4 linked regions of the Homo sapiens genome follow. The protein of the gene in region 2 interacts with the protein of the main gene of each other region in a pairwise test. Each region holds a gene or a part of one and is shown on either strand. Other genes may lie near its edges. The genes, in order: MOB2, CCDC90B, TK1 and TSC22D1.

The links.
Region 1: the proteins of CCDC90B (region 2) and MOB2 interact in binary tests that used the Homo sapiens proteins (3 or more experiments, as listed by UniProt).
Region 3: the proteins of CCDC90B (region 2) and TK1 interact in a two-hybrid assay, tested with the Homo sapiens proteins (2 studies listed by BioGRID and IntAct).
Region 4: the proteins of CCDC90B (region 2) and TSC22D1 interact in a two-hybrid assay, tested with the Homo sapiens proteins (2 studies listed by BioGRID and IntAct).

Annotation. Positions count from the first base shown.
Region 1 is NC_000011.10:1,476,762-1,483,793, reverse strand, and holds part of MOB2 (MOB kinase activator 2), read left to right. Parts: intron 1-2,907; coding exon of another isoform or gene 2,908-2,908; coding exon 2,909-3,069; intron 3,070-3,307; coding exon 3,308-3,401; intron 3,402-7,032. UniProt on the Homo sapiens protein: Stimulates the autophosphorylation and kinase activity of STK38 and STK38L.
Region 2 is NC_000011.10:83,258,573-83,262,391, forward strand, and holds the end of CCDC90B (coiled-coil domain-containing protein 90B, mitochondrial isoform 1 precursor), read right to left. Parts: exon of another isoform or gene 3,395-3,819; coding exon 3,339-3,394; 3' UTR 1,537-3,338; coding exon of another isoform or gene 1,485-1,536; 3' UTR 509-1,484; downstream 1-508. Other genes in the region: ANKRD42 (ankyrin repeat domain-containing protein 42), read left to right, coding at 1,485-1,536.
Region 3 is NC_000017.11:78,184,021-78,191,331, forward strand, and holds the start of TK1 (thymidine kinase, cytosolic), read right to left. Parts: upstream 3,033-7,311; 5' UTR 2,975-3,032; coding exon 2,909-2,974; intron 2,799-2,908; coding exon 2,767-2,798; intron 1,146-2,766; coding exon 1,035-1,145; intron 1-1,034. Other genes in the region: AFMID (kynurenine formamidase), read left to right, coding at 3,351-3,413, 6,950-7,040. UniProt on the Homo sapiens protein: Cell-cycle-regulated enzyme of importance in nucleotide metabolism. Catalyzes the first enzymatic step in the salvage pathway converting thymidine into thymidine monophosphate.
Region 4 is NC_000013.11:44,573,316-44,580,780, reverse strand, and holds the start of TSC22D1 (TSC22 domain family protein 1), read left to right. Parts: upstream 1-4,450; 5' UTR 4,451-4,706; coding exon 4,707-7,465. UniProt on the Homo sapiens protein: Transcriptional repressor. Acts on the C-type natriuretic peptide (CNP) promoter. Acts to promote CASP3-mediated apoptosis.

The sequences.
Region 1 (7,032 bases), about 82 Mb from region 2:
TCAGTTACGTGCTGGGTGCCAAGGAGGCCGACTGGCACGTCATGGGTACCACTGGCGAGAATGGGGAGGGTGGCATTTGACAGGCTCTTAAAGGACCAGGAGAAGTTTGCTAGGCCTGGTGTAAGATGGGCAAGTTGGCAGAGCAGCAGCTGGTGCCCACAAACAGGGTGCAGACCCCTGTGGCAGGCAGGACAGGTCATCTAGAGCAGGGAGGAGGGAGGTGAGGCTGGTGAGTGTGTGGGAGGCAGGAAGGAGGTGGTTCCATCTGGCCCGGCCCTCCTAAGTGCATGGTGCCTGCCAGGCAGGACCCAGGCTCAGAGCCCACCTGTTGGAATAGTGTGAGGGACTTTGTTTTGGGGGCTGTGCACACAGCATCTGCCCTTCTGCTTCTTCCAAGTGGTCACGGAAGCCCTGTGGGTGGGCTGAGGTCCAGGGTCCACTCCCCAGTCCCTTCAGCGCCATCTCTGTCCTGCCTGCGGCCGGGGCCTGCTCCCACAGTCCTCCCTCCACATCGAAGGACTTGGTCTTTCTGTGCCCCGGGGCTCCTAGCCAGCAGCACAGGGGGAGCTGGGAGCAGGGCGCAGGGCCTCGGCACTTCCCTGGGTGAGGGGCAGCTGGGCCACTGAGGCAGTGACTGGGCAGACCTCTGGGCCTGGACGGCACAGAGCCTGTTTCAGAGCCTGTGAGCCTGCGGGGGGCGCCGCAGAGGTGTTTTCTCCACTGGGCAAAGCCAAGAATGACTAAGGACGAGAAGAGTGCCATGGAGGTGTCGTGTGCTCTGAGGCCTCCTCGGTAGCTGCCGCTGGCTTGGACCGAGCAATGGGCTGCCTCAGAGTGACTGCTTCCTGCCCAGGCCTGGGCCTTCGCTGAGAGCCTGCCCTTCTGGGAAGGAGGGCACTTGAGGTCAGGGAGACGTGGGTGCTGCCAGGCGTTCGGGGCTTTCCCATGGAAGTCCCTCTGTTGGTGCCCGCACAGCCGTTCCTGGAGCAGAGGCCATGTCCTGCGCGTCCCCTTGGTCCTACTACCTTTGGGCCAGTGCCCGTCCACCTGCCCCATGGGAATGAGTGACCCGGTCCAAAGAAGGTAGGCTTGCAGGAGGCTTGTCTCACAGTGCACTAAGCTCCGGGGCCCGGCCAGCCCTGGGTGCTGGGGACAGGGTGAGACTGGGGGAGCAGCTCGGGGAGGCCCAGCCTGGAGGGCCTCGTGCGTACTTTTCTTCTGTGTTCTAGGAGAGCAGGTGTGGACGGGAAGAGGCAGGGAGGCTGAGGTGCCAGTGCCGGAGTGGCGGCTGCTCACTACCTCCTGACCACAGCCAGAGCCTGGGAGAGGGAAGCCAGGTCTCCAGGTTCTGCCCCTGCCCAGCCCTCTCTGAGGACCGGAGGTGGAAGGTAGCCCCAGCCTGGAAGGCTGGCAAGGGGGCAGGAACTGCCAGTAGGGCAGCCTCCCTGAGTGGGCCCTGGGGCACACCCTGAGAGTGAGCGCGCTGACAGCTGCTCCTGCTGGCAGCCCTGCGTGACCGACCACCAGGTAACTGCCACCTGGAGCTTGCCAGTTGACACAGCTCCTAAGACACAGAGCAGGGAGACGGCTTGTAGCCCGCTTGGCAGCCTGGGCCACTGCAACCCACCCCTCCAAATGGGAAGGCCGAGCCCAGGCTGTAGCTGCCCGGGTGGGGTGTGGTGTGCTGTGCTGTGAGAGCACAGGGCAGGGAGGTGCAGGCCCACCTGCCGGTGGTCAGGGCCAGGCCCAGCGTCATGGGGAGAGCCTTCCCTGTGGTGGACACGCTGGGCATGGCCTGGCACAGGCTGGTGTGGAGTCTGGGTGCCTCGCTGTGCTGGGGCGAGGGGCTGCAGGCTACACGGAAGCTCACCCTGTCTGTCCCACCCCTGTACTGTGAGGACCCCAAGTGCCCACGCTGCATGTGGCCCATCCACACCTGTGCTTCCTCTTCCTCAGACCCCACGCCCTGTGCTCTGGAGAGATGGCAGAGTGGGAGTGCCAGGGCCCAGGGGCCCTGCCCCTGCCCCTCCCTGCCCCTGCCCCTGCCCCTCCCTGCCCCTGCCCCTGCCCCTGCCCCTGCTCCTGCCCCTGCTCCCTGCCTGGCTCTGGCTACTCCCAGCACTGCCCCCAGAGGCCTGCGCTGGTCTCCTTTTAAGGCGAAGATCTGCTGTGAGAAGCTGAAAGGGAAACATTTCCCTGGCATTCAGGGAGCATTTTTCCTTTCTCTTTCTCTTAAATAAACCATTAGCAACTTTTCAAAACAAGAAAGAAAAAAAATAAGGACAGGGTCAGGTTGCCACAAAGACCTTTGGCCCCCATCCTCATCACCCTGTGGCCTCCCCAGGCCTGGTGGACAACAGGGATACTGGAGCTGCAGGCCAGGCTGCCGCCTGATGCCAGGGGCCCCGTGCTCTCAGGCTGGCCAGGAAGGCAGGTGCCCTGCACAAGGCCTGTGGTATGTTTTCACCGGGGCCACCAGCGGCAGGGGCAGGGACAGGCTGGCCAACTCAAAAGAAGCCAGGAGTGAGAGGGTTTGCTTCTCCTTTCCTTCCAAGAGCACTGGAAAACTGGAAGGTGGGCGCTGGGGGCCCTAAACCCTGGGCCCCTCCCTGGTTGGAGGACTTGGTGAGGGGTGAGGATGCCCTCCGTGCAGGGGCCCGTGTGGCAAGTGGGAGCGCCAGCCCTTCTTCCCAGGAGGTGCCACGCAAGGCAGCTCCACTGGCCCCTCTGCGGAGCAGCCTCACCGTTGGTGTCCCGTTGGTGTCCTTTGAGCCTGGCAGGGAGGCAGTGTCGCCCCGATGGGCTCGGGCAGCTCCCTCTACACCTGCGCTGGCCACAACTGACCCCCCGGGCAGACCCTGGGTCTGATGGGCGTGTAGTGACCACACCGCGTCTCCTCTCTTGGCAGGAAGTCCAAAGCCAAGCCTAATGGCAAGAAGCCCGCTGCGGAGGAGAGGAAGGCCTACCTGGAGCCTGAGCACACCAAGGCCAGGATCACCGACTTCCAGTTCAAGGAGCTGGTGGTGCTGCCCCGCGAGATTGACCTTAACGAGTGGCTGGCCAGCAACAGTGCGCGGGGGCCTGGGGGCGGGCCCCCTCCCTCCTCCCTGCTCCTCCTCGAAGCCCCTCCTCAAGGGGGACCCCCACGGCTGGTGCTCAGCAGCCCCCTGCCGCGAGGGGAGAATGTGGCCCGTGGACGGGCAGAGCTCACCCAGCCGAGCTCCTGCACCTGTTGCTGGAAGCAGGGGTGGACGGGGCGGCTCAGCTCTGGCGTTTTTCACATCTGGCTCCTTCTCTTCTCTTCCAGCCACGACGTTTTTCCACCACATCAACCTGCAGTATAGCACCATCTCCGAGTTCTGCACAGGAGAGACGTGTCAGACGATGGCCGTGTGCAACACGTGAGTGCTGCCTGGCTACAGCCCACTTTCTCTTGGGAGACTCGGTGGGGCTCTGAGCCCCCGCTGCCCCAGGCTCCTGTCCTCTCAGATTCCGTTCTCACCTGGAGACCCTGAGAAGTCTTGGCACAGGCCTTCCACAACATCCACCTTCCTGTGGAAAGGCCACAGGCTGGGCCAGTGGCCCAGCTACCCAGGTCCCCAGTGGGGCCCAGAAGGTGCAGGAGCTGGTGGGGGTTGATGGGCTATGTTTCTAGGGACAGAGACGTTTCCAGAAGGAATGCCCTAAGATTGCAGAGAGCCCTTCTCCGCTGGCTCCCGTGACAGCTCTGGATGGGACAGTGAGGGCTGGGCTGGGCAGGCCACAGGTCCTTGCTCGGCCATTCATTTCATGGGGGCTCAGTTACCTTCTCCGTGACCATCCAACATGCCTGGTGCTGGTAGCTCTCTCCTGGAAGCACTGCACCCTGATTTCCTCAGTAAATGGGTGTCCGTTAGTGGCCCTGAGCACCTCACTTGCGTAGCATGGGAAGGAGCGCCGCCAGGCCTGGGTTGCTGAAAGCAGCCTTGGAGGCTGCAGGCAGGAGGAGGCTGGGTCTGCTGGGCTTAGCCTGGGACATGTGCGGCTGAGGAGGGCGGAAGCTTTTCCCTGATGTCCCGTTGTTGTCAGTGCACACAGGTCAGGGACAGAATGTGTGCCTGTGAGTGCGTCCTGAAAGTCATCCTGCCCACAGACATGGCTTTCCTGGCCCTGGCACAGGGAGACGTGGTCCCCAGACAAAGCTGAGTTCTGCCTTCAAGAAGCCAAGGGGAGCTTCTGCACAGGCAGCTGGCAGGCGTCCCCTTGGCTTCAGTCCTGCTGGGCCCTGCCCTCATGGCCATGATGGGTCACAGCTTGGTTTGGTTATGGGTGACACCGGGGCAGGTACAGACAACAGCTGGCTTCACTGTCTTAATTCCCCAGGAAAATGAGGTGTCACAGCCAGGCATGGCCCAGGAAGATGGGGACAGTGCTTATGGCTTTGAGGGGAGCAAGCTCAATGTGAGACGGCGGTGGCCTCCATGGATCAGGCATGGAGATGGGTCCTGAGGTGGCAGGGCAGCACCCGAGAGCTACTCGAGAGCCTTGTGTCCACTGTGGCTCTGGAGCCACCTGTGGCCAAGTGCTGGCTCAGCGCCTCTGCTCCTGGGCAGACGGGGCCTGGCACCCTTCCCAGAGGCTCTGCTCCTGCATGTTCTGTGGTACTGGGTTGGTTTGGAAAAGGGGTCCTTGGAGGAGTGTAGGATGTGGTGTTGGGCAGACCTATGTCCCCTTGGAGGGCCTAGGCCACCCAGATTTGCCTCTTGGTCCTTCTCATCTGGAGCTGGCATCATGGTGGTAGTAGATGTGTGTGAATTAATTGCATGTAATGCCTTTCCAGGAATCCTTTCAAACCAAGGGACAGAAATCCACTCAAACTAAGAGAAACATGGAGACTTCTCAGAGGGCCTCAGGGCCACTTGCCACCCAAAAGACCAGCAAGTCTGCCTGGGTCGTGTGAGGGCTCTGGGATTGAGGCGCGTCTCCTCCCTGCTAGGGCCTGTAGGACAGTCCCAAAAAGGCTGATGTCTGACTCCTAGGGAGACGAGAAAGGGGGCGGGGCCGGAAACACATTGCAGCAATAATGGCTGAGAACTTCCCACAAAGACACAAACCTGCAGACTTAAGAAGCTAAGCAAACCCCAAATAAGGCTCACAGACACGTGCAGATGCATGCAACCAAATGCTGAGAACTGGGGGCAAAGAAAAAGCCCTTGGCAGCCATCCTCTGTCAGCAGTCAGACGGCGGTGGCCTGGTACTGACAACAGATGCCGCAGTGAATGACCGTGGCACTTTTAGAAACCCAGGAGGCCAGAAGGAAGAAGGAAGCCCCACACATCTTCCAGTGCTGGGAGAAAAGAAAGGTCATCCCAGAATTCCACATCCAGTCAGTGTCCAAAGTCACTCAAAACCAAGAGCCCTCACAGCCAGCAGACCTGTTCCAGAGGCTCCCTGCAGAGTTCTCCCAACAGGAGGGCCTCCTCCCACTGAGTGTTTGTGGAGACGCCAGTGATGGTGCAAGAAGACAAGAGTAGTGTCCGGCAGTGCCTGTGCAGTGCCGTTCCCAGGGCGGCCGTGGGGCCTGTGCAGTGCCATTTCCAGGGCGGCCGTGGGGCCTGTGGTGGCGGTGGGGCTGTGGCGGCTGTGGGGCCTGGCGGCGGTGGGGCTGTGGGCAAGAGAGCTGCTATGCTCCAGTGGAAGCACATGTGTGGGTGCCATGGAGAGCATGTGGGGTTGAGTTGCGTGTTACAGCCCTTTGAGCAGGCCTTGCAGAGCTTATGTGAAGAGACGCAGTCAGAATCAGAATAGGTAAATTTAAATGAAATACAAAAACATTTCAGTGGCCCAAGAGAAAGCAGGAAAGAAGAAATACCATAAGGAATGAGAAACAGAGGCAACAAACAGCAAATAGTGGAAAACCTAAATGCTAACAGATGAACAGACGGGACTGGGCAGCTTATGAGAATGTATTTTTAAAATAACCAACTCTCTGGTGTTTACAAGAAGCTCATTTGTTGTATTTCATTCGGGATGCTGTCACGAAACATGATAGGCTAGGTGGCTTGTGAACAACAGAATCTTATTTCTTGCGGTTCTGGAAGCTGAAAGTCCAAGGTGAAGATCCACTGTGGACCAGGAAGGGGGCACTGACCACGTCACTGGATCTGATTAGCCAGATTCAGTGTCTGGTGAGGGTCCCTTTCCTGGTCCACAGACAGCACCTTCTTGCTGGAAGGAAGGCAGGGCGACGGAGCCACCAGTTCTGTTCATGAGCGTTCTACCCTTGCAACCTCATCGCCTCCCAAAGGCCCCATCTCCAGATACCCTTGCGTCTGGGGTTAAGCTTTCAACATAGGAATGTGGGGCATAAGCACCCTGTGTGTCACACCACTCTAGGTGCTGTGGTGCAGGCGGGTGAGAAGTAAGAGGACAAGATGTGCTGAGAAAACACCCATCAGAAGGAAGCGGAAGTGGCTATGTCAGTGCCAAAGGAGACTCCGAGGAAGGAAGTGACCAGGAATAAGAAGGTTATCTAATTAGAAAAGGAGCAGCTCTTGAAGAAATCCTGCCATAAATGTGTGTGCGCCAGACAACAGGGCTTTCCACACAAAGCAAACGGACGGCCTGTGTAGAAATCACATGATCGCCGGGGATTGCAGCCCTCTCCTCAGTGATGGAGCCTCATAGACAGTCAGCGAGAGCACGGAGCCCGATGACCCCACCCGTGGGTTGGATTGAAATGACACATGCACTGCAGCCTCAACAGCAGAACACCCATCTTTTCAACTTCACAAAGATTAGCCACCAAGATGGAGCATACCTGTCACAAAAGAGCCCTTAACAAATTTTAAAAAATCAAAACCATACGAAGTAAGTTTTCTGACCATGGTGGGGTTAAATTAGAAATCAGTAACAGAGAACAGGAAAGTCTCCAAACACTTGCAGACTAATACAATTCTGAGTAGTCCATGGGTCCGAGAGGATGCCTCAACAAAAAAACTTTAACAAACTGTACACAGGAAAATACAGCATGTCAGAATTTGTGAGACATA
Region 2 (3,819 bases):
GAGGATACCATCTACCTAAGAGGAGAGCTGTGAAAATAGGTGAGCACATATATGTTATTTAGCATATTTGCCCTCATATAGTCAATGATAGCTATTTTTTTTCAAAATAGCAATCAGTAGTTTCAGTGATAATGACTACAGCCTTTCCCACTGCCCTTTTTTTAAATATTAAAAAATACTTAAAAAATAAACAAGTGTTACATATCCAAATTCTTCAAGTTTGACAACATTATAAGCTTTTAATTGTTTTTCCAATAGGTGAGGGTTTTTCCTGACTCTTGCCAAGTCCTTACATACTCTTGCCTGGCCTATTTTGTCACCAAAGCAGTATGGATAGGCAGGTTAGGATCTACACTGTGGCTATAAACATGGTGAAAGTAGCTAATCCTTGTGGAGGCTTCTTACCACTCATAGAAAATGCCTAAAAGGTGTATTACGCTCACTCAGTATGAATGCAGTATTTTCAGCATACCCATAATTAAATATTTAAAATATTAAAAAGTTTGGATTAAGGTCAACTGAGATTTATGAGTATCATTTATTCCACAGGCGTTTAACAAGTACCTCACATGTGTCTAGAGGCCTTCTGAGAACTTGTAGTTTAGTGTAGGAAAAAGATACGTATAATTGCTGTTTCATAGTGAAGTGCAAGTGCTGGAATAGAGGTATAGTTTTAAGGCATATAGAAACACAATCCTCTCATCCTTATTTCATATATTTCCATCACTGAAACAAAAATTTACCTGAACCCCAGAACCACCATCAAAATGAAGTTTCATGGAAAGGATATAGGATCTAAAAGTAATGGGGACAGGGTATGGTATGCATATTTCTATTCTTCTGTTATTGGATACAAAGCACTTTGTTTGCTAAACCCCTACAATGAGAAAGAACGCAGATCTATTTAATATTTAGTGGCTGTATAACCTGGGAATAAGTATATTTATTTGTTGGGGCTTGAGAAGGTCCAATAAATGGCATACCTCCTTTCCATTCTGGGTTGTGAATATAACTAAGATGAAGAATGAATAAACTAATATAGAGGCCTAAAAAACACCTTTATTTGCTGATAAAACTATTGGAGAAGTTTTTTTTTAGGAGACAGGGTCTCATGTGTTGCCAGGCTGGAGTGCAGTGACTATTTATAGGTATGATCATGGTACACTTTAGCCTTGATGAACTCCTTGGCTCAAGCAATCCTGCTGCCGCAGCCTCCCAAGCAGCTAGGACTATAGATGTGTGCCACTGTGCTCAGCAAGAGAATATGGGTTTCATCTTAAGGCCAGTAAGCTTCTTATCACTGAACTCTAGAACTGGACAGATTTACCCTGTCTCAAGCATTGCTCTACTGGGCCAGGCCTCATCCTGCAGAGGCAGAGCCTGATCCCATAGAAGCAGAACAGAATGAATGTCTCTTCAGATGGGCTGGTCCCAAACAGGAGTGGGGAGGAAGTGGGCTAATTGCACCTTGTTTCTCCTTCCAGATTTACAATTGGGCAAGTCACTTTACCTAGGGCAGAGTGGATAAGGGGATGAAGAGTGACGACAGTGTTATGCTACTGGAGCTTCCTTCACATGGAGGAAAGACGCATTCCCTCTTAATATTTTAGAATATTTTAAATCTTAACAAACCAATAATTTACTTGTTTATGTCTCTCTCCTTAAGATTGTCAATTCAATGAGAATGAAACCATGTTCATCTCTGTGCACACAGGGACTAGCATGCTGTTTGGCATATAGCAGGCAGTCATATTGGTTAACTGAACAAATGCAGTATACTTTGTTACAGTGGACTTTAATATATATGGTAACTTATTAATTGACTCAGTGAAAATTAATCTATAATATACTAAGAACTCTCTTAGGCAATAGAGATAAAAATGAATCAGAATGTAACAGGATAATGTCAAGGTTTTTCTTTTGAAAACAAACCAGCAGTTAGATTTTTGAGGAAAATATAGTTGGAAAGCCTGACTCTCACTCACTGGACCATATGGACCAATCTCTTGACTGCTCTATACTGCAGATTCCCTGTTTATAGCTAAACAAATGACAAGGCTATTTTGAATAATGATTGTCAAACTTTTATAGCTATTACCAAGGCATTATGAACTCAAAATGTTTACTTTCTGGTCTTGTCTTCTTGATCTGGGTAAGACTGAAGAACTAAGATGAAAAGGATATTTTAAAATTTCTTTGAAATTACATATGATTTACTAATAGATATTACTTTGTAAGAAAAAATATATCTAATAACAAAACAAAATACGAATTTAAATTTTCCTATGAGTTTCTTGAGAGTAGGTACTAGATATCAATGTTTGCTGAATTGAAGTCATTAAGAAAAGCTTTGTTTTATGTAATAAATTTAAGATGGGTTAACTTAAACTACATTAAGAAGCAGGGATAAACTGGTTTTTGAGTATCAAATATTTAAAAAATACATGTAATAATCAGAGCTCAATATTTAGCAACTCTACAGATTTCATATTAAGTGTTGTAATTTGCACTAAAGCACACATTTATTTATTTAGGTAATGGAGTCTTGCTCTGTCACCCAGGCTGGAGTGCAGTGGTGCTATCTCGGCTCACTGCAAGATTCTCCTGCCTCAGCCTCCCGAGTAGCTGGAATTACAGGCATGTGCCACCATGCCTGGCTAATTTTTGTATTTTTAGCAGAGACGGGGTTTCACCATGTTGGCCAGGCTGGTCTAGAACTCCTGACCTCAAGTGATCCACCCGCCTCAGCCTCCCAAAGTGCTGAGATTACAGGTGTGAGCCACCGCGCCTGGCCTATCATTTTAAAATTTATTGTTTTAGTTCATTACCAAAAAGAAATCAATCTCCAACTATATGGTAAGTCACTTTGAAAACCCACACAACTTTGTTGTAATAATCTTTCATTTTATAGAAAAATGTAATTATGCAATGGTTATCAGGAAAGTTAATTCAGTAATAAATATGTAGGCTAGGGAATGGTTTACAAATATTCAACCAATACCCACAAAATCCTGTATGATTTACACAACTGTTCAAGCAAACATAAGAAAACTCTGGTTCAATTTCTATTAACTATCAAAAGGACAAAATGCTCTTCTATCTCAAACCAGGTCTGAGTGACAGCTTTTCAATATAATAAAGACACACACCTGCACTCACACACACACAATAAAGACACAGTATCTCTTCTCATTCTAAAACACTTCCTCTTTTAGTCCGTATACACTTCGAATAATCTTGTGTAGTAAATTTTTGCTGCAACTGACAATGTTCAAAGTAAATCTCTCCCGGTTTGGTGTTCTAAGAAGCCAACAGCCACAGCAGGATGAGCATTAATACTACTTCCAGAATCTATAAAATCCCAATGCTATTGCCAGGCAAGTAAACACCGAAGCTGTGAAAAGAAGAAACTGTGTTATAGGTCTTGTATCTGTAATTATTTTGCAGAGATAAAGAGAATAATGTTATCTTTAAGTGAAGAGCAAAAAACAGGAAATCCAACCAATTTTCTATCCTATGTTTTTTATTCCCTAGACAATTAAGTATGAAAGACATTCTTAAGGGCAGCCTTAATGCCTAATTCTTCTTAAAAGCACCTGTATATTAAAATGTAAATTATGTCATTTAGAAACCTATAACCTGTATTTAAAATCATTAACGCTAGCATTATTGACTACTTTAAATAATTATAAGCTCTAATTTCAGATCTCATGATAAATGAAATCTTTCTTATATTAAAAAATTACGTAGTTAGGCTAGTAAAATATACATATATCTGTGAGAAGAGAATTTTAATTGCCTTTTCAGTACATTTTTAAA
Region 3 (7,311 bases), on a different chromosome or scaffold from region 2:
CAACAGCTGGAACGAAGTGACCTCCTCTGCTTTCCCTGTCCCCACCAGGTGTAACACCACCCTGTGCCGTGGACATCGCATCTTAGGAATGAGGAAGCAAATTTGGAAAAGTAAATGACCTACATCAGACAGCATGGTCACGAAGTGCGGTTAAATTCCCACATGCAACTCCAAGCCCCAAGCACCCTCCACTCCACCAGCATCTGGCTTCAGGAGCCCCTCAGCTCCCACCGAAGGCCACACGCCGGGTGGATCTGTTCTCTGCACAGCCATAGCAACTCTCGGATACAGCTCCCAGCCAGGGCTCTGAGGCTGAAGCCCTATAATGTGTGGCACAGCATGGCTTTGCCACTGGGTGCCCAGGTGGACAAGTCCAGAGGACCAAGCAAAGCGTCTCAGGCTCAGAAACATCAGGCCCACATCTGCTGCCAAGGAAGTGAATTTAACTCCCAAACTGAGGTTGCAGGCGGAAATGTCCAGCGAGCTCAAACAGCTACACATAAAACAGGGAAGCGTGAAGGCTGCCAGGTGACGGGGGAGCCAGCCAACAACGGACAACTAAAAAATTAAACAAAAATCAACGTGCAGGCCAAACCAAACCAGTCTGCAGCCTGTGTGAAGCTGAAACCCTACGGCAGAGTTTCTGAACACTGGCAGGCTCCTGACATTTGGGGCCAGCTCGTTCTTGCATGGGGGCCGTCCTCTGCACCATAGGACCCTTAGCAGCAGTGTCCCTGATTTCTACACATTAAAGCCCAAAAGCATCCCCTCCCCCCTCCAGTTGCAACAACTAGAAATGTCTTCAAACATTGTCAAATGGACCCTGGCGGCAAAATCACCCTCAGTGGAGAACCACTGGCTCCAGCCCAGGGAGTGGAGAGTGTGCGCTACCTTGCCAAGCACCTTGGAAAGTGTGCTGATTTGAATCATTCAATGTTCAAATGATTAACCATCCCCATTAAAGAGAGTCCTAACAGTGTGTCCTGTGCCTTGTGATTTTCCACTGGACAGGACTGCAGGGGGCAGGGACTGACCGGTCATGTGTGCAGAAGCTGCTGCTGTAGCGAGTGTCTTTGGCATACTTGATCACCAGGCACTTGTACTGAGCAATCTGGAAGCGACGGACGCGTCTCATCAACTCTGTGCTGCAAGAGGAGAGAGGGTCAGGTGAGGTCCACGGCGGGAGGAGTGGGAGAAGGAGACCCCTCCCCAACAAGCCTGGCTCCTCATTGTCCCTAGTGGTATGCAGACTGAGCCCACCACAGCCAGAAAAGAGCAGGGCAGAGCAGGCAGGGTATAATATCCCTACAAAGAGGGTTGGAAGTCAGAATTCTCTATGGGGAAGAGGTCCAGGAATGGTACTCAGGTGGTCCCAGGAAGTGTGGGAGGAGTAACCTTCTCCAAGATGTAGTGGGGAAGGCAGAAGCAAAGGCTACATGTAGAGGGAACCTGCGACTGCATTCCAAAGTAACCTCATCCCAGAGTTGTTCCCAGAGTTCAGAGTTTTTCTTTCTTTCTTTTTGGGGTGGAGTCTCGCTCTGTTGCCTAGGTTAGAGTGCAGTGGAGCGATCTCAGCTCACTGCAACCCCTGCCTTCCGGGTTCAAGAGATTCTCCTGCCTCAACCTCCCGAGTAGCTGGGATTACAGGAGGCTGCCACCATGCCCAGATAATTTTTGGTTTTTTTTTTCAGTAGAGATGGGGTTTTACCACGTTGACCAGGGTGGTCTCAAACTCCTAACCTCAAGTGATCAACGCACCTCAGCCTTCCAAAGCGCTGGGATTAAAGGCGTGGGCCACCACACCTGGCATACAGCTTTTCTAAATTAATTTCAGAAAGTCTTTGTGTGCAGCGTCAAAAGCACTTGCTTCTGGGTCCAAGAAGTCCAACTCTGAGCCACATCTTCCTGAGCAAGGGGTTTGAGCTGAAGTGATCCCCAGGGCCATAAAAGAATGTTGGGGCAGGGCATGGTGGCTAACATCTGTAATCCCAGCACTTTGGGATGCTGAAGTAGGAGGATTGCTTGAGACCAGGAGTTCAAGACCAGCTTGGGCAACATAGCAAGACCCCAGCTCTATAAAAATAAAATAAAATTAGCTGGGTGGAGGCGGGGGGGTGCACGCCTGTAGTCCCAGCTACTTGGGAGGCTGAGGTGAGAGAATTGCTTGAGCCCAGGAGTTTGAGACCAGCCTGGGCAACATAGCAAGATCCTACCTCTAGAAGAACAAAAACAAAACAAAAAGAATGGTGCGTGGGTAGTTTACTCAAGAAACTCACTAGCCCCACCCGGGTCAGGGAATGGTTCTATCACCTCAGGAGAGCAGAGGCTCCACGGCTTCAGACTCCTTGGTTTAGAAAGCGACTACGTTTCCTTGGCCTTAGAAGGAAACAGCCACATTGAATAGGGGTGTACAAAAAGGCCTGGCCTACAGGGGACACAACTGGTTGCCACCTTCTCAGAGGACTTGGTGGGGAAGACAGCTAAGCTGTAAGCAGCTGTCACCAGCTCCAGGAGGGAGTGGCGTCCACACAGGACGAGGGGCTTGGCCTGGGCAGAAGAGGGCAGAGACTTCCTCCTGGACTGAATTCAAGGGAGGAGCACCCCAGGCGGGAGCTGTAGGAGGCTGTGCTGGTCCTTCTAGGGGAAGGGAAGGGGAGGGAAGGGAAGGGGAGGGGAGGGGAGGGGAGGGAAGGGGAGGGGAGGGACGGGACAAGGGGTCCCCGGAGAAGAGGAAGGAGCTCCACCCCAGCCCCGCGAAGCCATTACCTTTTTCCTGAGAACATCGGCCCGAGAATCACCTAGGAGAGAAGGTGAGGTCATTTGAGGGCCCGCCCTGCGCGGATGCCTGGACACAGGCTATCACCACGACCACCTCATCCCCAGCCACGCGCAGGGCTGGCCCCCGCACCTGGATCTGCCCCCGGGTCTTGCTGGGGGAGCCAGGCAGCACAGTGGGCAGGTTAATGCAGCTCATTGCGCCTCCGGGAAGTTCACGAACCCGAGTACTCTCCAAGGCCGTCCCGCAGTAAGCCCCTGGTTCCCGCGCCGACCGCTTTAAACCACGGCGTGCTGGCCAATCACGAGCCGGCCCCGCCGCCATGGGGCCAATCAGCGCCCGGCCGCTGACCTGGCGGGAGATTTGGCCGCAGCCCGCCCCCTCGTGGGAGGAATCCGGGACGTGCGCCCAGGGACTGGGAGGGCCTGGAAATCAGGGCGATGGACGTGGCTGATCGGGGTGGGGCCTGGTCTGAGCCCCGCCTCGGTCCGCCCACCAAGTTTAAAGGGGCGGAGCGAGGCGGGGCTCTGGCCATATAAACAGAGGGACGCACGCCCATGCGGCTGTAGACGCCATGATGGATGTGTCTGGTGTGGGTTTCCCAAGCAAGGTTCCTTGGAAGAAGATGTCTGCAGAGGTAGGTGGATTGCAGGGAGGGACTAAGGGGCTGGGGCGGAGTTAGCTCATTTATTAGATTGGAATTCCAAGAAGGAAGCTTAGAAGCCGTCTAGAGCACTCCTGTGGGCATGCAGAGCGCCTAGTGCGTGCCAGGTCCCCAGTGCTTGAGCACCATGGTGTATTTTACCTTCTCCTAAGGATTTTTGTTAACCTGGTTTTCAGGATAAAGAAAATTGAAGTCCTGACTATGCTAATAATATCCGTAGACCCTGCCAGGCGTGGCGGCTCACACCTGTAATCCTAGCACTTTTGGCGGATCACGAGGTCAGGAGTTCGAGACCAGCCTGGCCAACATGGTGAAACCCCGTTTCTACTAAAAATACAAAAATTAGCCGGGCGTGGTGATGTACCTCTGTAATCCCAGCTACTGGGGAGGCTGAGACAGGAGAATCGCTTGAACCCAGGAGGTGGAGGTTGCAGTGAGCCGAGATCATGCCATTTGTACTCCAGCCTGGAAGGCTGGGCGATAGACCAAGACTTAGTCTCAAAAAAAAAAAAAAAAAAAAAAAAAAAAATCCATAGACCCGCAGGAGGTTAGGGGACAAAGTTCTGGACCTTGATCTGAGGTTACACAATGTTTTTGGGTCTGTGCTTATGTGGCACAGGCTGAAGGATTCAGAACAGCTGGTATTTACATTGGGGTTGTGAAGGTTAGAAACATACAGGCCGGGTGCGGTGGCTCAAAAAAAAAAAGAAAGAAAGAAAAGAAACCCATTGTATAATCATGATCATAAATAATAGCAACAAAGATGGTGGTAGTGATCACAGAGTGTGCCAGGTGTGGCTGTAAGGATCCTACAGGTAATAACCTTTCCAGGTACAGATTGGACAGATCCAAGGACCTCTGACAAAGAGCTCCTTCACTGGGAGGAAGAAGCAACCCACACTGACTGGCTTGCTTTATTTTACTCGCATGCTTTATCTCTTTTAACCTTGTGATTTGGATACATGCCTTCTTTTTTTGAGACACAGTCTCGCTCAGTCACCCAGGCTGGAGTGCAGTGGCATGATCTCGGCTCACTGCAACCTCTACCTCCCGGGTTCAAGTGATTCTCCTGCCTCAGCCTCCCGAGTGGCTGGGATTACAGGCACACTGTAGCTGGTACTACATGCCTGGCTAATTTTTTTTTTTTTTCTTTTGAGACAGAGTCTCGCTCTATCGCCCAGGCTGGAGTGCAGTGGCGCGATCTGGGCTCACTGCAACCTCTTCTTCCAGGGTTCACGCCATTCTCCGGCCTCAGCCTCCTGAGTAGCTGGGACTACATGCGCCCGCAACCATGCCCGGCTAATTTTTTTGTATTTTTAGTAGAGATGGGGTTTCACTGTGTTAGCCAGGATGGTCTCCAACTCCTGACCTCATGATCCGCCCCCCTTGGCCTCCCAAAGTGCTGGGTTTACAGGCATGAGCCACTGCGCCTGGCCAATTTTTGTATTTTTAATAGAGATGGGGTTTCGCCATGTTGGACAGACTGGTCTTGAACTCCTGGCCTCAAGTGATCCACCCGCCTCGGCCTCCCAAAGTGCTGAGATTACAGGTGTGAGCCACTGTGCCGGGCCTGGATAGATACCTTCTACCAGTCAGGAAACTGAATCTCAGAGACTAAGTAACTTGTTGAGGATAAAACAGTAAGTAAGTGAGGGAGGTCAGATGGCATTTGACCTCAGGCCTTGCCATGAGGCTGCCCTGACTTCCCATTTCTCATGATGGTTTTGAGCCCTTTCTTCAAAATCTGGTTCCTTGTTACTTTTTTTTTTTTTTTTTTTTGAGATGGAGTCTCGCTGTTGTCACCCAGGCTAGAGTGCAATGGTGGGATCTCAGCTCGCTGCAACCTCCACCTCCCGAGTTCCAGCGATTCTCCTGCCTCAGCCTCCCGAGTAGCTGAGATTACGGGCGCCCGCCACCATGCCCAGCTAATTTTTGTATTTTTAGTAGAGACGGAGTTTCACCATGTTGGCCAGGATGGTCTCGAACTCCTGACCTCAGGTGATTCACCCGCCTCAGCCTCCCAAAGTGCTGGGATTACAGGTGTGAGCCACCACGCCCAGTGTTTTGTTTTTTTTTTTTTGAAACAGGGTTTTGCTCTCTCAGGCTGGAGTGCAATGGCGCAATCTTGGCTCACTACAATCTCTGCTTCCTGGGCTCAAGCGATTCTCCTGCCTTAGCCTCCCGAATAGCTAGGACTACAGGTGTCCACCACCATGCCCGGTTGATTTTTCATATTTTTCGTAGAGATAGTGTTTCGCCATATTGCCCAGACTGGTCTGGAACTCCTGGACTCAAGTGATCTGCCTATCTTGGCCTCCCAAAGTGCTGGGATTACAGGCGAGAGCCACCGTGTCCAGCATTTTCTGTTGGTTTTTTTTTTTTTTTTTTTGAGATGGGGTCTCACTCTGTCGCCCAGGCTGGAGTGCAGTAGCATGATCCCGGCTCACTGCAACCTCTGCCTCCCTGGTTCAAGCTATTCTCCTGCTTCAGCCTCCTGAGTAGCTGGGATTACAGGCGCGCGTCACCATGCCTGGTTAATTTTTGTATTTTTAGTAGAAATGGGGTTTCATCATGTTGGTCAGGCTGATCTTGAACTCCTGACCTCGTGATCCCGCCTCCGCCTCCCAAAGTGCTGGGATTACAGGCGTGAGCCACCGCGCCCAGCCTCTGTTTTTTTTTTTCTTTTTTTAATTCTCCAAACTGCCTCAGAATGGTTCCTTGTTACTTTCTGCATAAAGTGTGAAGGTGTTAGCCCGACATTCACCGCCCCTCCTCCTCCAGCCCAGCCTCCCAGCCTCACCTCTGTGTGTCAGCCATAGGGCCTGCCAGCATTTGCAAACTGACCTTTCATTCCTTCCTCCTCACCTCTGTGCCTTTGACTGTGCAGTGACCTCCTGTGGTCAGAATCGCACCCTCTCAGCGCAGATCAGCTCCTCCTTTTTTAATTTTTTTGAGGTAGAGTCTTGCTCTGTCGCTAGGCTGGAGTGCAGTGGTGCGATCTCGGCTCACTGCAACCTCCACCTCCCAGGCTTAAGCAATTCTCCTGCCTCAGCCTCCCAAGTAGCTGGGATTACAGGTGCACACCACCACGCTCGGCTAGTTTTTGTTTTCAGTAGAGATGGGGTTTTGCCATGTTGGCCAGGCTGGTCTCAAACTTCTGACTTCAAGTGATCCACCTGCCTCAGGCTCCCAAAGTGCTAGGATTACAGGCGTGAGCCACCGGGCCACCTGGCCTCCCCTGGTCGTAACTGCTGTGGGAGTGGTGCCCATGATGGCATTAACTGAATTCGTTTGGGGGACCTCATCTCCCCTTAAGGCTGCCAGCTGGCTAAAGGCACAGCGGTCGCTGGTATACCTCTAGACCATGGATCTGAGGGCATCTTGGAGACCCTGGGATACTGGGGCGAGGGCTTCTAAGGCAGAGAGGAGCAGCCGGGCATGGGCGAGGGGGAGGGGCACACTCTGTTGAGAAGGAAAGTCTTACGGAGCCTCATGTTTGTGCCCTGCAGGAGCTGGAGAATCAGTACTGTCCCAGCCGATGGGTTGTCCGACTGGGAGCAGAGGAAGCCTTGAGGACCTACTCACAGATAGGAATTGAAGGTACTAGTGTGACCTCTCCGTGGCCGCATTGGGTGTCCTTAAGCATGTGGCAGTGATTCAGAATGCTGGGGGTTGGGGGGGCTGTGCTGCACCACCTGGGCCTCGAGGGGCATTTCCCAAACACCAGGCACTTTATAAACCTCCCTGCTCAGGGGCAGGTGCCCAGGACCCCTTGCTGCAGGGACTACTGGAGGCAGGAGAGGTCCGGGGGAGGTCCACGGCTCAGTCGACCATGCCTGGCCTTTCTTGCTCAGCCATCCATACCCAGGCC
Region 4 (7,465 bases), on a different chromosome or scaffold from region 2:
ATCCCAGCACTTTGGGAGGCTGAGGTGCATGTATCACCTGAGGTCAGGAGTTCGAGACCAGCCTGGCCAACATGGTAAAACCCCGTCTCTACTAAAAATACAAAAATTAGCCGGGTGTGGTAGCACATGCCTGTAATCCCAGCTACTCGGGAGGCTGAGGCAGGAGAATCGCTGGAACCCGGGAGGCGGAGGTTGCAGTGAGCTGAGATTGTGCCATTTTACAGCCTGGGAGACAGAGCATGACTGTGTCTCAAAAAACATCAACAACAAAAAAGTAATTCAGAGGTACAGCTTCAGAATGAAAACAGCTAAAATTCGATCTTTCAAAAGGCAAAGGATAGCTCTAAGTACTTGGTTTAAAGGATTTAATGACTTTATTATACATAGCAGTCGGCATTTAATGTTTATATAATAAAAATCCAGACCTTTTTAATTAAAAGATGATAGTATAACAAAATCTGGCTCTTGAGGTGCCTTCTCCTTGTTTCAACGTATTTGTGTTCATATATTGCTGTCGTAAGAATTTTGGAGGGGGAGAGACCCAGATTTTTGAAACTCAGATTTCCCTAACTGTAGAGTTGCCCTTTTTATTTTTTATTTTTTATTTTTATTTTTTTGAGACGGAGTCTCGCTCTGTCGCCCAGGCTGGAGTGTAGTGGCCTGATCTCGGCTCACTGCAAGCTCCGCCTCCCAGGTTCACGACATTCCCCTGCCTCAGCTTCTCACGTAGCTGGGACTACAGGCACCTGCCACCACGCCCAGCTAATTTTTCGTATTTTTAGTAGAGATGGGGTTTCACTGCGTTAGCCAGAATGGTCTTGATCTCCTCACCTCGTGATCCGCCCGCCTCAGCCTCCTAAAGTGCTGGGATTATAGGCACGAGCCACCGCGCCCGGCTGACTTGCTCTTTATATCTTAGTGGGACTTGATGCAGCCTAAGCAGGAGTTTGAAAGTGATATGGCAGGCAAAAATTAATACACTTCAAAAGATCTTATTTTCTTACGTCTTAAATTCTGGATTTTTTTTTAAACCTTTATTTTAAAGGGAATAACACCCCAACCCTTCCTCCCCCATCAAAACAGCTCAAACAGTACCCTTTGCTACTGGTCATTAGAACAAGTATCTGCTTCCAGAGGGGCTATCTCAACAGCTCTTTTACTCTATCAGCTTTGGGTAAGACTTTAATATATGTGTTTATTAAGCGTCAAAGCATATCAGCACAATCATGGTGAGTTATTTAGGTGGCCCAAAGGGTATACAGCTGCTGTTTGGGGTAATTTAAAACTTTGACTTAAAAAACAAAACAAAACAAAACAAAAAACCTTTGACTTAAGGCTACATTTTGAGAGATCAAGAGCATTTTCTTTCATACTGCAGTCCAAAGAAAGGACATTCCACCCATCTACATTCCATTGCAGTTTCAATCGGTTAGGGTAGTTTCTATTTTCCATTCAAAAACTATTGAAAAAGAATGTCAAATTTGCATTTCAACAATGGATGGCAGCGATTAACCAGGCATATTACTTGCAACAAAAGCTCAAAAAGTAAAAAAGAAATTATTTTTGTGAAAACACAAATAGCCATAGTTCTATAAAAACAACCAATCACATATTAATATCATAGAACAAGTAGTCTTCTCAAACATATTTGATGTTTATTACTGTATCACTTTGAATATTTGCGAGAGCCTATTTACTTCTAGCAGAGGTTTACATTAGCAATATAAAGTAATAAATAAATAAATAAATAAATAAATAAATAAATGAAGTCCGGGTTTTTCTTTTCAGTGTGGGAGACCCCACATAAAGCAACAATGTATCATAGCTTTGACACTGGATAAATGGGATGTTAAGAGTGCACTTCTATTCAATAACATGCAAATGGTGACATAATTCACTTTTTGAAAGCTTCCCCTTGGAACAAGGGGAAGAGTTCAGAGAAAACTAAAGGTAAAAAGTTGAACTGACAACTAGAGGTGTATCAAAACTGCAAATGACAATCGTTTTTGCTTTAACAATCTTCTGAAATAGGAATGTAAATCCTTGAGACTTCCTGAATCAGAGGTCTAACCATAAGCGTTGATTCCCCTAACAACCTAAATTTAACAAAATGAAAATTCCTCCCTACAGTTTTTCGGCTTGCTTTATCATTTTTAAATTCCTGGGAAAGACTTACATTCTCGATTATTGGTAAGAAACGCTTAGAACTAGGTTTTGACATGAAATACCAAGAAAGTAACCGCCAGTAAATTGCCCCCAATCAAACCTAACATTGCTTCTGTAGAACTACATTTGGACCCATGAAATGTAACGTGTGTGTGTGTGTGTATTTTAAAACTGGAATTTCGGATGGCTTTTTCTTTTCTAGCCCTAAAAGGCATTCTTATCATTTGTGTTGCTCACATGTCCGGACCACCTTGCCTCCTGAGTCAAACCAATGGGGGATATAGCCAGGACGATGAACGAAAAAGGCGTCGCTGCTTGGAGACACCTGTTGAGGTCAGTCGATTACAGGGCCGGCCTGCTTCTGTCCTCCAGTTAAGGATGGATTGCAACCACTCCTCGTTAGAGAAGAGCCTAGCCCAGAGGAGCTCAGGCAGTTAACTGGAAACAGCTGCAACATCTGCCCGGCCGCCTCGCCCCTGCCCGTGGAAGGGCGAGGGGACCGCATGGCAGCAACTGCACTGCACAAAAGACAACACCTATCACCGGGAGCCACCGGCCTTCCATAGACCCCACAGCTCCCGGCCCTAGGGCATCCCCCGAGGAGGCAAGGGCCGGGGGCGAGCCCAGGTGCGGCGAGGGGGAGGAGGTTTCCGCCACGCGCCAGGGAAGAAAGCCTGACTCATGTCGTGGCAGCGGCAGCAGCCGCGGCGGCGGGCTCCTGGGAACTGAAACTCGTGATGCTGTTGCTGCGGAGAAAAGCCTCATTACCCATTCCGCAGGCGGGGGACACCACCCAAGGCGCGCACACCAAGCGCCGGCGCTCCCGCCGCCTCCGCCGGCCCTTCCGCGCCGCGCCCCCTCCTCTGCCGCGTGCCCGCGCGCGCCGGCCGCGAGTGTGAAAAGAGCGGACACACCTAACCTGGGCGCGCGGCAGGCGCGCACCCTGCCCGCCCCCACCGGGCCGAATCACGCAGTCCGACCCGGATTCGCTCCTTCGGCCGGAATTCCCCACCCCCACTATCCCCTCCGGCTCCACCACTCCCGGCTTCGGCGCCTCTGCCAGCCTTCGGTAATTTCCGTCGGGAGACCTGGCGCTCGCCTAGGCCCGAAGACCCGCCGCCTCCTGCCCCGCCAGACCCGGCTTTATGTCTGCGGCGCCGAGGCGCATGCGCAGACGCCATCTTCCCTCCTCCTCCTCCGCCTGCCCCCTCCCCCCAGCCACCACCGCCTCCTCTCGCCGGCGGTCGCCCCTCCTCCTCCTGCGCTCCGCGCTGGTCCCTCCCCTCCCGATGCCGCGAGAGACTGGGGGATACGGTGGAGCCGGGGGAGCCGAAGAAGAGCACTAGTAACAACCACCACAGCCCCCTCCCCGCCCGACACCCTCCCTCGGCACCCACTCACTCCCCCGCCCCGTTTGCCGACACCGACCAACCCCACCTCGTTCCTTTGAACGGCGTCGGCTGCAGTCGCTGCACCAGCCCGTCTGGCCACCAACGCCGCGGAGAAAGGAGCCGCCGCCGCCTGCGGCCCTCTCCCGCCCGGTCGCGGGAGCAGCGGGGTGAGGAAGAGCCGGCTGCGGAGGAAGAGGATAAGAGAGGGTCGCACCCTCCGCCCTAGCGCACGTCCCGCCGCCCTCCGGAGAGGCTCGGGTGCCGGCCCCTTCCTCCCCGAGGACGTGTGCCGAGTCGAGGCGCCTGCCCTGAGGGAGGAAAATGCTCGGGCTCCATGGCTGCCAGTGATGGAGCGGTCCCTGGGCTCCCGCTGCCACCGCCGCCGCCGCGCCCCGGCCGTGCTCCGCGAGGACCCGGCGTCTCTGCGCGCCCGCCCGCGCCTCGTTGCTGGGCTCACCGTACCGGGCGCCTCGCCGCCGCCCCGCTCGCAGCCGCGTCGCCCCGGCCCCAGCCGCGGCCAGCGTTTCCTCACCGAGCAGCCGCCGCGAGCCCAGGGGGTTTGAAAGGGTCTGCGGGGCGCGGGGGGAGGGCCGAGCGGGGCCGGGAGGGGAGGTTTGAGCGACACTGAGCTCGGGGCTCGCTGGCGGCGGCGGCGGCCCCGGGGGTGGCGAGGGGAAGGCGACATTTGCTTGGCGCTGCCTCCGTGCAGAGCGGCCGGGAGGGCTTTGCAGCGGCCGCCGACGCGGCGGGAGGAGGGGGCTGAGGCGGCTTCGGAGTTGGCCGGAGAAGGTGGGCATTTCTCGCTTTTCCTCCCCTTCCTGCGCTCTCCCCCTCCCTCCTGCCCCGCACCCCACGTGAAGCAGAATATAAAGGGGGGTGTGAGGCTAGAGGGGAAAGTGAATGGCGAAGGACTGAAGGGATCCCCCCTTCGGGTCCCCGGCCGCCCTGTTCACCCTCGTTCATCCTCCTTTCCGAAGCTCGCTCTCGAAGGCAGGAGCGACCGGCGCCTTTGGCTGAGGAGGAGGAGAAGGAGGAATCGCGCCAGGCGGAGCGTCAGGTCCCGTTTTCCTCTCCGGCGTCTCCAATACAAAGATTACGGTGCAGAAGGAAATTGCACTCGTCTCCTCCGCGCCCCCGGTACCCAACACAATGCACCAGCCGCCTGAGTCCACCGCCGCGGCCGCCGCCGCTGCAGACATTAGCGCTAGGAAGATGGCGCACCCGGCAATGTTCCCTCGAAGGGGCAGCGGTAGTGGCAGCGCCTCTGCTCTCAATGCAGCAGGTACCGGCGTCGGTAGTAATGCCACATCTTCCGAGGATTTTCCGCCTCCGTCGCTGCTTCAGCCGCCGCCCCCTGCAGCATCTTCTACGTCGGGACCACAGCCTCCGCCTCCACAAAGCCTGAACCTCCTTTCGCAGGCTCAGCTGCAGGCACAGCCTCTTGCGCCAGGCGGAACTCAAATGAAAAAGAAAAGTGGCTTCCAGATAACTAGCGTTACTCCTGCTCAGATCTCCGCTAGTATCAGCTCTAACAACAGTATAGCAGAGGACACTGAGAGCTATGATGATCTGGATGAATCTCACACGGAAGATCTCTCTTCTTCGGAGATCCTTGATGTGTCACTTTCCAGGGCTACTGACTTAGGGGAGCCCGAACGCAGCTCCTCAGAAGAGACCCTAAATAACTTCCAGGAAGCCGAGACACCTGGGGCAGTCTCTCCCAACCAGCCCCACCTTCCTCAGCCTCATTTGCCTCACCTTCCACAACAGAATGTTGTGATCAATGGGAATGCTCATCCACACCACCTCCATCACCACCATCAGATTCATCATGGGCACCACCTCCAACATGGTCACCACCATCCATCTCATGTTGCTGTGGCCAGTGCATCCATTACTGGTGGGCCACCCTCAAGCCCAGTATCTAGAAAACTCTCTACAACTGGAAGCTCTGACAGTATCACACCAGTTGCACCAACTTCTGCTGTATCATCCAGTGGTTCACCTGCATCTGTAATGACTAATATGCGTGCTCCAAGTACTACAGGTGGAATAGGTATAAATTCTGTTACTGGCACTAGTACAGTAAATAATGTTAACATTACTGCTGTGGGTAGTTTTAATCCTAATGTGACAAGCAGCATGCTTGGTAATGTTAATATAAGTACAAGCAATATTCCTAGTGCTGCTGGTGTGAGTGTTGGGCCTGGAGTTACCAGTGGTGTTAATGTGAATATCTTGAGTGGCATGGGCAATGGTACTATTTCTTCCTCTGCTGCTGTTAGCAGTGTTCCTAATGCAGCTGCAGGGATGACTGGGGGATCGGTTTCAAGTCAGCAGCAACAACCAACAGTTAACACTTCGAGGTTCAGAGTTGTGAAGTTAGATTCTAGTTCTGAGCCCTTTAAAAAAGGTAGATGGACTTGCACTGAGTTCTATGAAAAAGAAAATGCTGTACCTGCTACAGAAGGTGTGCTGATAAATAAAGTGGTGGAGACTGTAAAGCAAAATCCGATAGAAGTGACTTCTGAAAGGGAGAGCACTAGTGGGAGTTCAGTGAGCAGTAGTGTCAGCACACTGAGTCACTATACAGAGAGTGTGGGAAGTGGAGAGATGGGAGCCCCTACTGTGGTGGTGCAGCAGCAGCAGCAGCAACAACAACAACAACAGCAACAACCAGCTCTCCAAGGTGTGACCCTCCAACAGATGGATTTTGGTAGCACTGGTCCACAGAGTATTCCAGCAGTTAGTATACCACAGAGTATTTCTCAGTCACAGATCTCACAAGTACAATTACAGTCTCAAGAACTGAGCTATCAGCAAAAGCAAGGTCTTCAGCCAGTACCTCTGCAAGCCACTATGAGTGCTGCAACTGGTATCCAGCCATCGCCTGTAAATGTGGTTGGTGTAACTTCAGCTTTAGGTCAGCAGCCTTCCATTTCCAGTTTGGCTCAACCCCAGCTACCATATTCTCAGGCGGCTCCTCCAGTGCAAACTCCCCTTCCAGGGGCACCACCACCCCAACAGTTACAGTATGGACAACAGCAACCAATGGTTTCTACACAGATGGCCCCAGGCCATGTCAAATCAGTGACTCAAAATCCTGCTTCAGAGTATGTACAACAGCAGCCAATTCTTCAAACAGCAATGTCCTCCGGACAGCCCAGTTCTGCAGGAGTAGGAGCAGGAACAACAGTGATTCCTGTGGCTCAGCCACAGGGTATCCAGCTGCCAGTGCAGCCCACAGCAGTCCCAGCACAACCTGCAGGGGCATCTGTCCAGCCTGTTGGCCAGGCTCCGGCAGCAGTGTCTGCTGTACCTACTGGCAGTCAGATTGCAAATATTGGTCAGCAAGCAAACATACCTACTGCAGTGCAGCAGCCCTCTACCCAGGTTCCACCTTCAGTTATTCAGCAGGGTGCTCCTCCATCTTCGCAAGTGGTTCCACCTGCTCAAACTGGGATTATTCATCAGGGAGTTCAAACTAGTGCTCCAAGCCTTCCTCAACAATTGGTTATTGCATCCCAAAGTTCCTTGTTAACTGTGCCTCCCCAGCCACAAGGAGTAGAACCAGTAGCTCAAGGAATTGTTTCACAGCAGTTGCCTGCAGTTAGTTCTTTGCCCTCTGCTAGTAGTATTTCTGTTACAAGTCAGGTTAGTTCAACTGGTCCTTCTGGAATGCCTTCTGCCCCAACAAACTTGGTTCCACCACAAAATATAGCACAAACCCCTGCTACCCAAAATGGTAATTTGGTTCAAAGTGTTAGTCAACCTCCCTTGATAGCAACTAATACAAATTTGCCTTTGGCACAACAGATACCACTAAGTTCTACCCAGTTCTCCGCACAATCATTAGCTCAGGCAATTGGAAGCCAAATTGAAGATGCCAGGCGTGCAGCGGAGCCCTC